Linked DNA regions of Homo sapiens. The protein of the gene in region 2 interacts with the protein of the main gene of each other region in a biochemical or structural test. Each region holds a gene or a part of one and is shown on either strand. Other genes may lie near its edges. The genes, in order: OSTM1 and RGS19.

What was found.
Region 1: the proteins of RGS19 (region 2) and OSTM1 form a complex in vitro, tested with the Homo sapiens proteins (one study listed by BioGRID).

What each region holds. Positions count from the first base shown.
Region 1 is NC_000006.12:108,064,451-108,071,741, reverse strand, and holds part of OSTM1 (osteopetrosis-associated transmembrane protein 1 precursor), read left to right. Parts: intron 1-7,291. UniProt on the Homo sapiens protein: Required for osteoclast and melanocyte maturation and function.
Region 2 is NC_000020.11:64,072,390-64,076,518, reverse strand, and holds the end of RGS19 (regulator of G-protein signaling 19), read left to right. Parts: intron 1-1,977; coding exon 1,978-2,052; intron 2,053-2,140; coding exon 2,141-2,375; intron 2,376-2,474; coding exon 2,475-2,666; 3' UTR 2,667-3,338; downstream 3,339-4,129. UniProt on the Homo sapiens protein: Inhibits signal transduction by increasing the GTPase activity of G protein alpha subunits thereby driving them into their inactive GDP-bound form. Binds to G-alpha subfamily 1 members, with the order G(i)a3 > G(i)a1 > G(o)a >> G(z)a/G(i)a2.

The DNA.
Region 1 (7,291 bases), on a different chromosome or scaffold from region 2:
CAGTAGAGCTGGATATGATTCATTAGCTCAAAAGTGTGACATCTACAGTTCTGAGGTACTTTATAGATTTAAAAGGCTATATGGACTGGTTTGGGAGTTGAACCATCATGTATAATAATGAACTTATGAGGCCAGGTGTGGTGGCTCGTGTCTGTAATCCCAGCACTTTGGGAGGCCAAGGCAGGCAGATCACCTGAGGCCAGGAGTTCGAGACCAGCCTGGCCAACATGGTGAAACCCTGCCTCTACTAAAAATACAAAAAAAAAAAAAAAAAAAAAAAATTAGCCGGGTGTGGTGGTGCGCAGCTACTCAGGAGGCTGAGGCAGGAGAATTGCTTGAACCCGGGAGGTGGAGGTTGCAGTGAGCCAAGATAGTGCCACCACTCTCCAACCTGGGGGACAGAGTAAGACTCCGTTGCAAAAAAAAACCAAAACAAAACAAAACAAAAACCTATGGAAAAATGTGTCATGAGTGAACTTGAAGGAATTAGTTGTCTCTTGGGGAGGTTTATTTATCCAGTGTAGTATATTTTCTTTTCTTTTTCTTTTTTTTTTGAGACAGAGTCTTGCTCTGTTGCCCAGGCTGGAGTGCAGTGGCATAATCTCAGCTCACTGCAAGCTCCACCTCCCAGGTTCATGCCATTCTCCTGCCTTAGCCTCCCAAGCAGCTGGGACTACAGGCGCCCGCCACCACGCCCGGCTGATTTTTTATATTTTTAGTAAAGACGGGGTTTCACCGTGTTAGCCAGGATGGTCTCAATCTCCTGACCTCGTGATCTGCACACCTCGACCTCCCAAAGTGCTGGGATTACAGGTGTGAGCCACCACACCCAGCCCTTTTTTTTTTTTTTTGAGACGGAGTTTCCCTCTTGTTACCCAGGCTGGAGTGCAATGGCGGGATCTCGGCTCACTGCAACCTTCGCCTCCCAGGTTCAAGCGATTCTCCTGCCTCAGCCTCCCAAGTAGCTGGGATTACAGGCGCCCACCACCACGCCTGGCTAATTTTTGTATTTTTAGTAGAGACAGGGTTTCACTATGTTGGCCAGGCTGGTCTCAAACTCCTGACCTCAGGTGGTCCACCCGGCTCGGCCTCCCAGAGTGCTGGGATTACAGGCGTGAGCCACCACGCCCAGCCTATCCAGTGTAATGTATTTTGTTTGACTCAGACTCAGTCTTTTATTGAAATCAGTTTTTAGCAAGCACCTACTATTCTTGAATATTGGGCTGGTAAAAGGATAAGAAGGAAAAGAAGGGTAAGATTCAGGCCTCAAACTATCAGTATAGTTAGGGGAAATAAAATACCTTATATGGGGAAATAGGAAAATATCAGTGAGTGTTATAAATTGTACCATAGCAATTTAGAACAAAAGAGTGAAAGGAATGCCAAGTTAAAGGAGGGAACAGAGCCAGATGCAGTGGCTCATGCCTGTAATCCCAGCACTTTGGGAAGCCGAGGCAGGTGGATCGCTTGAGGCCAGGAGTTTGAGACCAGCCTAGCCAACATGGCAAAACCCCGTCTCTACTAAAAATATAAAAAATTAGCCAGGAGTAGTGGCATGTGCCTGTAATCCCAGCTACTCAGGAGGCTGAGGTGGGAGAATCACTTGAGCCTGGGAGGCTGAGGTTTCAGTGAACCAAGTTTGCACCACTGCACTCCAGCCTGGGTGACAGAGCAAGACTCCATCTCAAAAAAAGAAAAAAAAAATGACGGAACAGAGCAAGGCTGGTTCATCAGGGGAAACCTACAAGCTGAATCTCAAGGCATTCTTTCTACCCTTCTTTAGTGTGAATGGACATGGATTGATTGAGAGAGGAGAGGAGTATAATAAGGAGAAAAAAAGAATCAAAGCCAGAAACTAGTAAGCTATTTATGTGGTACAGCAATATAATTAGTTTAACTATAATAGAATTCCCTGATAAGAATCCTAGGTTCTTGTCACTTCCTTTTAGAATTTCTGGGAGAGGGATCGCATATAGTTTCATTATCTCAAGGTGAAAAATACAGTGATTTCTGAAACCTGAATGATAGAACTGAGGGATTCCCTCTTCCTTAGAGTCATACTTTCTCCTTTTAGTTTAAACTGATAGGGACATAGTTTCATTGTGATTCAGCATTATCGGAATGGTCCTGAGGATGCTTTTGCCCCCTCAGATTCTGAATTGGTAGGCTCTGTCCTATTCTACTTGGTTTGTTTAAAATTTAGATAGTGTTTAAAATTTAGATCTATAGATCCATCCATCTACCTATCTATCTCTATCTATCTATGTATCTGTGTATCTTTGTGAAGTGCTAGTCATTTGGGTTATGTATTTGGTGAGTATTCAATATACTTTTACTGTAGATTATTAAATAATGAATTCTGAGGACTATAGGGAGAAAGCCAGAACATAGTGTAATAATCTGTGTCTTTCATTAGAGATCAGAAAATGTAATATTTCTTCTGCATTCATTCAAAAAAATTATTGAGTACCTATTATGTACAGGTTGTGGTAGCTACTAGGGATATAGCATGAATGAGCAGAGCTTGTAGTCTGAAGACAGACATTAAGCATCTCATTATACAAATAATTATTTAATTCATGTGTGATAAGTGTTGCTGATTAAAAAACCCAGATGCTACCAATGCATATGACAAGAGTGCTGATCTTGAGTATGACTGGGGGGTAGGTAGAATGGTCAGTGATTAAAGCAGACACCTACAATTTGAGAGAACACAGGCAGGGGAGGGAAGGTATACATGTAAAGAAATAGCAGGCATGAAGACTGAGATGGGAAGGAGTTTGTGGTGTATCTGAGGTCTAGAACACAGCACAGTGAGCAAGAAGGAAACCCGTGGTCTGAGCCTAAGGAAGTACACAGGTGCCAGGTCATGTGGGCCTTGTAGGGTATGTTAAGGATTTTAGACTTTGATTTTAAAGCAGTATGACGTTAGTGAAAGGTTTAATTCTGTGGAATGACATAATCAGATTTGTACTTTAAAAGGCTATGCTGGCTATGTGACAGAAAATGGAGAGGGTAGGGGCTGGGGAGGGTAGGGGAAGAAGATATGTGGGGAGATGAATTAGGAGACTGTTGCAGTGGTGTGAGAGACAGTGGTGTCTAGGCTATGTGGGGGCCATCATGATGTGGAGAAATGGGTGGATTTCAGAGATACTTAGGAGGCAGAAATTACAGGCTTGGAGGTTAATTGAATGTGGGGAGTAAGGAAAAGGTAGTGATGATTTCCAGGGTTTTAATAAGAGCAGCTTAATGAATAGGGTTGTCATTTACTGAGCTGGAGGGAGGAGTCTGTTTAGTGGGCGAAGATCATTAACTCAGTTTTGAACGTGTTGATTTTGAGGTGTTTATGAGCTTTCTAAGTGGATATATTGATTGCCTATGTGGTTGAATATACACATCTAGAGGACTGGACTAGAGATAACACCTTTGGGAGTGTCGGCATAAAAATGGCATTTGAAATTATGACATGGGTGAACATACCTGAAGAATGAGTAGGAACACTAAGAGTTTAAGATTAAATAGAGGGTAAACTCTCAAAGGTGACTGAGAAGGAAGAATTGGAGAGATAAAGAAGAATGAGGAGAGCATGATGCCCTGTAAATCAAGGAAAAGGGAAGGGGTGGTTATTTGTGTCAAATCCTGCTGAGAGAATTGGAGATATATCTGTCAACACTGGCAGTATTGGTGACACTAACAAGAGTGAATTTGATGGAGTCCTTGGGTACGAAAGTGAGATCAGAGTGGGTTGAACAGGGATTGGAAGATGAGGACATGGGAAGAGTGAACCTAGACAACTGCTGAAGAGTTTGGCCTTGATGGGGAGATAAGAAAGAGAAGTCACTAAAGAGCAATGTGGGACTCAGAGACTTTCTTTCATTTCTCTTTCTCTATTTTTTTTTTTTTTTTTTTTTTTAGACAGAGGCTCGCTCTGTCAACCAAGCTGGAGTGCATGGCACAATCTCGGCTCACTGCAACCTCCACCATCCCAGGTTCAAGCGATTCTCCAGCCTCAGCCTCCTGAGTAGCTGGGACTATGGGTGTGCACCACCACACCCAGCTAATTTTATACTTTTAGTAGAGATGGGGTTTCACCAGGTTGGCTGGACTGGTCTCGAACTCCTGACCTTAGGTGATCTGCCTGCCTCGGCCTCCCAAAGTATTGGGATACAGGCGTGAGCCACGGTGCCAGGCTGACTTTCTATCATTTCTTTCCATTCCCCTGTCCCTCCATTCCTCTGTCCTGCCTTCCCTTCTTCCTTGTCCAAGATGGGAGAGAGCTGGACATGTTTAAATGTTGATAGTAAGGGTCCTTTAGAGAAAGTGAAGATTCTGTAGGAGGGAGTGGGAAGCAGACAAGGTCAGTTTCCAGAAAAGGCAGGATAGATGGGATCTAGGGCATCCTCAGAGAGATGGGCCTTGAAAAGGACAGGTGCCTTCCCCACCTTAATGGGAGGGTAGAAGGAGAGGTTGCATGTAGGGGTAGGCAGGTTAGAGTTTCAGCTCGAAGGCTTCTGTTATCCAGGAGGCTAGATCTTCTTTTGAGAGTAAAGAGTGGGAGAGAGATCAGAGTTTCTGGGAGAGTGGAGAGGATTTGAAATAGCGGTTGTAAAAAGGAGAGAATGAGCAGACAGAAAAGTGAGGAGTACGGTTTGGGATTATGGATTTACTTTGGAATTAATCTGTGTTGTTAATTTTTTGCCAGCAGCTCCTGACTTCCTGGGTGCAGGCATGATCAAAGGAAATGGCTGGCTTCAAGATGGTTAGGGTTCTGCTAAGTAGTTAGGATAGATTTGAGTATTAAGAGTTCTAAGTATAAGCAAGGACCATTGATTTTTTGGTCACTTGGCGAGGTGTTGGGAATACAAAGATGTGACAGTTTCCATTTTAAAGGGACATCTGTCCAGAAGAGAAACCTAAACATATATAGGTGGATATCATGCTTTAAGAAACCATGCATCAGGGTAATGACGCATGGGTCCCACATTGCTCTTTAGTGACCTCTCTTTCTTATCTCCCCATCAAGGCCAAACTCTTCAGCAGTTGTCTAGGTTCACTCTTCCCATGTCCTCATCTTCCATTCCCTGTTCAACCCACTCTGATCTCACTTTCACACTCAAGGACTCCATCAAATTCATTCTTGTTAGTGTCACCAATACTGCCAGTGTTGACAGATGTACCTCCAGTTCTCTCAGCAGGATTTGACACAAATAACCACCCCTTCCCTTTTCCTTGATTTACAGGACATCATGCTCTCCTTATTTTTCTTTATCTCTCCAATTCTTCCTTCTCAGTCACCTCTGATAGTTTACCCTCTACCCAGCTAACACTACCTATTTCATAGAGTTGTTATGAGGATTAAATAAGGAAGTTGGAACATTTGGAACTGGTAAGTAGTAAGTACCTCATCATCGTTTGGATTATTAATCATTTCCTTTCTGTCCTCACTGTTGCCATCATCCTTTCATTATACCTGATCTATGGAAGTAGTGTAATGAGTCTCCCTGCCTCCTCACCCTACATATCACGGCCTAAAGATGTATTCCTCAAACTGCTTTTCATGACACCCTCCTCATAAATCTTAAAGAATTTCTCACTGGCTAACTCTCATGACCCTCACGGCCTCTCATAACCTTGTTCTAACTTAGCCCTTTAATAGCCCTACTTTCATAGACTACTGAATACTCTCCGAATACCACATAATCATTATCACTTTCACCCCATGATCATTTAATTCTTCTATTTTCGAATCCTCTTCTCTTCCTCAATATAGGGCTTAGTTCATATCCTGCTTCCTTCATGAACTCTTTCCTAATTTCTCAAAACTACATTGATATCTTCCTGAACCGAACTGTTCCACACATTGAACACTCATACAGGCTCTACTGTATTGATTTTTAAAATAGCCAGTCACCCACTTATGAAGATTCAACTTAACCAACTAATGACACTTATCCAACTAAACCTACTTAGAGCACTTCAGGTTGGCAGCATGGTAGCTAGGTGAAATAGCATATATCAGTCACTGTGTGCCAGACAGTGTGCTGAGTGATTAATGTATGCTATTTCATTTAATACAGTAACTGTAGGACCCCTGATTTTGAAACTGAACCTTAGCGAGGTTGGGTCAGCTGCCCAAGGTCACTAGCTAGTGACCCAGGCTTGTATTAATACAATATTATTACTTCTACTTAAGAAGTGATAATAGGCCAGGCATGGTGGCTCATGCCTGTAATCCCAGCACTTTGGGAGGCCGAGGCAGGTGGATCGTCTGAGGTCAGGAGTTCGAGACCAGTCAGGCCAACATGGTGAAACCCCGTCTGTACTAAAAATAAAAATTAGCCAAGCATGGTGGCATGTGCCTGTAGTCCCAGCTGCTCGGGCGGCTAAGGCAGGAGGATCGCTTGAACCCAGGAGGCAGATGTTGCAGTGAGCTGAGATTGCGTCACTGCACTCCAGCCTGGGCGATAGAGTGAGACTCCATCTCAAAAAAAAAAAAAAAAAAGTGATAATAGAAAATTTTCTTCTATGGCTGGTATTGCTCAGAAGGTAATTCTAAAAAAGAGTTTTAAAATGTTCTGTTCATGGCCAGGTGCAGTGGCTCATGCCTATAATCCCAGCACTTTGGGAGGCCGAGGTGGATGGATCATTTGAGTTCAGGAGTTCAAGATCAGCCTGGCCAACATAGTGAAACCCCGTCTCTACTACAAACACAAAAATTAGCTGGGTGTGGTGGCATGTGCCTGTAGTCCCAGCTACCTGGGAGGCTGTGGCATGAGAATCGCTTGGATTTTATATTTTAAAGCAGAAATTCTTCCTTTTCTCCCTCTTTTCTCCTTTTTTCCATTTCTTCTCCCACATGACTGACCATTTGTTTCCCAGGAGTTACCACTCTTTTATTATTCATCACACTGTATAACTCCTTGTCTGTGTAACTGCGAGAGGTTCTCAAAGCCCCAGAATTGATGGCATTCTTTTATACTTTTTATATCCTCAGAACTTCAGGATTTTTATAGTGCCTAGTAAATAGTAGGAGTTAAATAACTTTGAAAGAATTAAGGGTCAGCAGGACTTAGTTCCTTGCTTGGGGCACGAAGGAAAGGAAATAGATAAGGATCAAATGATTTGGGAACTTGGATTTATTATTTGCATAGCATGAGTTTCTTTCATTATTAAAATGATCTACAAAAGCATATTTTTCCATCTGGGTACAAACTATTTAGATAACAAAGATTTTCTTCCTTTGCAAGTGAACCTAGTACCAATAAATGTTAGCTGCTAATTACTTTATTAT
Region 2 (4,129 bases):
AGGGCCTGGGGTGCCCAGCTGGCGAGGGGGTCGAGGGCATGGGGCCAAGCAGACCCAGGAGGGGACCCAGTGGTGGCTTCCGAGGCATCCCCGCAGGCAGGATGCCCCTGCCACCTCACAGCACTGTCCTGTCCAGGGTCTGTTGGGCCCTGGTGATGAGTGGCCGGTGCCTTGGCCCCAGGGAGCTCATGTATGGCTCTCGTACCTGTCTTGCCAAGGGTGTGTCCGTGTGCTGTGTACATGCATGTGCCCGTTCACGCGGCATGTGCTTTATCCATGCTGCTGTGAGCCAGCCCAGGCTAGGCCCTGGGGGCCTGCGGTGGAGTAAGACAGGCACAGGCCAGGTGCAGTGGCTCATGCCTGTAGTCCCAGCACTTTGGGAGGGCAAGGTGGGCGGATCACCTGAGGTCGGGAGTTCGAGATCAGCCTGACCAATGTGCAGAAACCCTGTCTCTACTAAAAATACAAAATTAGCCAGGCGTGGTGGCGCATGCCTGTAATCCCAGCTACTCGGGAGGCTGAGGCAGGAGAATGGCTTGAACCTGGGAGGCGGAGGTTGCGTTGAGCCGAGATCGCGTCATTGCACTCCAGCCTGGGCAACAAGAGCAAAACTCCGTCTCAAAAAAAAAAAAAGAAAGAAAGAAAGAAAGACAGGCACAGACCCCATACAGTGTGTGGGGTGGAGGGACGTTTGAACAGAGACCCCAATAAGGGAACTGCTGGCCCTGGGGCGATGGCCAAGAGCTTCCCGGACAGCATGCGTGGGGGAAGAAGAGCAGGGGGCGGTGGCGGGGACGTCTCTGGGCATCCCTGTGAGGGTGGGAGTGGGGCTCCCAGATGGTAACAGATTTCCTAGGAGTGTAGGGGAGCTGGTGGATGTTTTCACACCTTGCAGAAGCCTGGCCCTATTCAGGCTTCAGGCCCTGGCTGATGAGAGGACAGCGCTTCTGGATCCAAGGTGGCGTCAGCTGACCCACGGGCAAGCTGGGGGTGGCCAGGGGGCAGTCGGGAAAGGGGGTGGGAGGAGCCCAGGGGCCTAGTTCTGTCAGGACGTTTGGGTGCACGATGTCTGCCAGCCATCCAAGTGCCCTGGAGAGAGGTCAGCCGGGTATGGATTTGGGTCCAGCACTGACAGGATGCTAGGAGCCAAGGCAAAGAAGCTGCTTCCCTTGAGACAACCGGGGATCAGGCTCCAGAACCTGAAGGAGTGTGGACACGGGTTTGGGGCTCTCACCTGCGTCAGCCGACGAGAGACACTGCTGACACGCCAGACCTGCAGCGTGTGACCCCATCGGTGGGACAGGGACAGGCCAAGATCAGGCCCAGGAGCAGGGTGGCCCTGTTCCCAGGCACATTCCCATGGGTGGCCCTGTTCCCAGGCACATTCCCATGGGTGGCCCTGTTCCCAGGCACATTCCCATGGGTGGCCCTGTTCCCAGGCACATGACCCTTCTGGCCTCCCAGGTGTTCAGGGATCTCCCAGCTCCTTGTGGCCCCTCATCTTGCCCCACCCCATCTCCCCCAGGGGAGCAGAGGCAGAAGGGGAGGTGGCATACCTGCTTCTCAACCTCATGTGGGGTGGGCATGGGTGGGTGGAGGAGGTTGCCCAGTGGGCCAGGGATGGGGAGGAGCACACCAGGAGCCGAAGGGCCCCTCCTGGAAGGCCAGAGACTCGCGGGCACTGGGTCACACTGCTGGAATGGAAGACGGCAGAGTCTGTGGTCTGGGCACTGTGGCAGGGACAGTAACCTGGACTGCAGATTCTGTGGGGAATTTGGGAGTGTGGGAGAGTGTGGGAAGAGCCAGCTCCAGGGGCTGCCCTCCTGCAGTGGGTGCCCATGTGTGTCAGGTGCCTGCAGGGGCTGCCCTCCTGCAGTGGGTGCCCATGTGTGTCAGGTGCCTGCCCATGTGCTGAGGGCCTGTGTGGCCGTGGAGGCGTGTGTGCCCACGGCAGCGCTGCTTCCTCTCTGCCACTAGGAACCAAGAGCGGCGGCGCGCGTGGCAGGCCTCCCGGGAGAGCAAGCTGCAGCCCCTCCCCAGCTGTGAAGTATGGTGAGTCCAGCCGGCTGGTGTGTGCGTGCTGGGGGGGCCCCAGACCGGGAGACTCGGGCCTGACATAGCCTGGCCCCCGTGCCCACAGTGCCACGCCAAGTCCTGAGGAGGTGCAGAGCTGGGCGCAGTCTTTTGACAAGCTGATGCACAGCCCAGCGGGACGCAGCGTGTTCCGGGCGTTCCTGCGGACAGAGTACAGCGAGGAGAACATGCTCTTCTGGTTGGCCTGCGAGGAGCTGAAGGCCGAGGCCAACCAGCATGTGGTAGACGAGAAGGCGAGGCTCATCTACGAGGACTACGTATCCATCCTGTCCCCCAAGGAGGTGCGCCAGACACCAGAACAGGCCGGGGGCCGCCTGCTCCAGGCACTAGGTGGGGAAGGCAGCTCCCGCACCCCCTGACCTCAGTGTCTTGTCCTGCAGGTGAGCCTGGACTCCCGTGTGCGGGAGGGCATCAACAAGAAGATGCAGGAGCCGTCCGCACACACGTTCGACGACGCGCAGCTGCAGATCTACACGCTCATGCACCGGGACTCCTACCCCCGCTTCCTCAGCTCTCCCACCTACCGTGCCCTGCTGCTGCAGGGGCCATCACAGTCCTCCTCCGAGGCCTAGGCCGCCCCCAGCAGCACAGACCCCGCCGCCTCCTACGGCCGACTCTGGGTTCCCTTCAGGTGTTGTTGTCGGCAGGGCTGTCAGGGCACATGCCTGGCCGGCTGGGGTCCCCACCCGCGGAGACGGTCCTAGACCCAGTGGGGAGTGCTGTGTCTCCTGGGTCTGCCCACCCGTGGCCAAGCAGGAACTCCAGGTGCAGGGCGGGCCTCCAGGTGCAGGGCGGGCCAGAAGCCCCCTCATCGGCCCGCAGCTGGCTGGCCCAGTGCTCCTGGCTGGGGGCTCTTGCGTGGTGAGAGTAGGGGTCCCCCCAGGAGCCATGCTGGACCCATGAGCCTCGCTGGGGCCTCCTCCCCAGGCAGCCAATGGGCCCCAGACAAGCCTTTGGTGGGGAACAGAACCTCCGCATCGTGTAGTTTTGTGACATAAGGAGACCTCCTACTTGAGCTGTCTGTACCCCAGAATCAAACACAGAACCTCAGAACCAGATTTAGGACCTCAGAATCCTGCACTCAAGGTGGCAGGACCCAATTTCTGTTTTATATGTTCATGAACTTTAAACCTGGAAACATGTCCTTACTAGGTGTTTTATCAAAAAAAAGTTTTCATATTTATCTCTATCCCTAACCCCCCAAAAATAGGATGTCTTATTATTGAAGATATTTTTAAAGCAAAGTCTCTACTCATTTTTGTCCAAGTCTGGGGAGAGACTGGAGAATGAGTGGCCCCAGACTCAGGGCTGGGGAGAAGTGTCCTTGTCCCAGGGCAGGGGCTCCAGTGCCCCTTGGAGGGGACACACAGCCGTGTGCTTGCCCTCTTCCCATGCCCTGGCCTCCACCAGACCCCTCCTCAGAACAGTGGTCCCAGTGGGTGGCTGTGCTTAACCCTGCCCGGGGCATGAGCTCCACGCCCTCGGCCTCAGCCTCCTTAGCTGAAAGTCGGGCCAGAACAGTGACCCACAGCACCTCAGAAGTCGAGAGGCAACAGGAGGTGCCGCCCAGGCCCAGCCGGACGGGGTCCCCAGAGGCAGGCTGGCTGGGGCAGGAGGGGCCACTTGGTGCCAGGCCCAATGTCATCTTTCTCATCTCACAGGCCCCATGAGTTGAGTGCTCACCAGCCCATCCCCTGCATTTCTGGGAAGTTAAGTGAGTTGAAGCTGAAATTGGCTCAGGGCCCTGAGACCACAACTCCCACAAGAACAGAGAAGGCAGCATGGGGACAAGCTGTCCTGAAGTGCCGAGAGGTCCCGAGCTGCCCATGCCTGAGGCGTTGGGGAGGACACTGCCCTGCACAGGACGCACACAAGACCCTCTCCCCACCTGCCCTCACAGGCAGAGCCGCCCCAGGTGATCTCTGAAGGTCAGCCAAGCTCCTCTCCTGGGGCTGACCCACCAGGGCCAAACCCAAGCACTGCCCAACCCCAGGGAGGGGCCTTGTCCACAGCAGTGGAAACGGGTCAAACATGG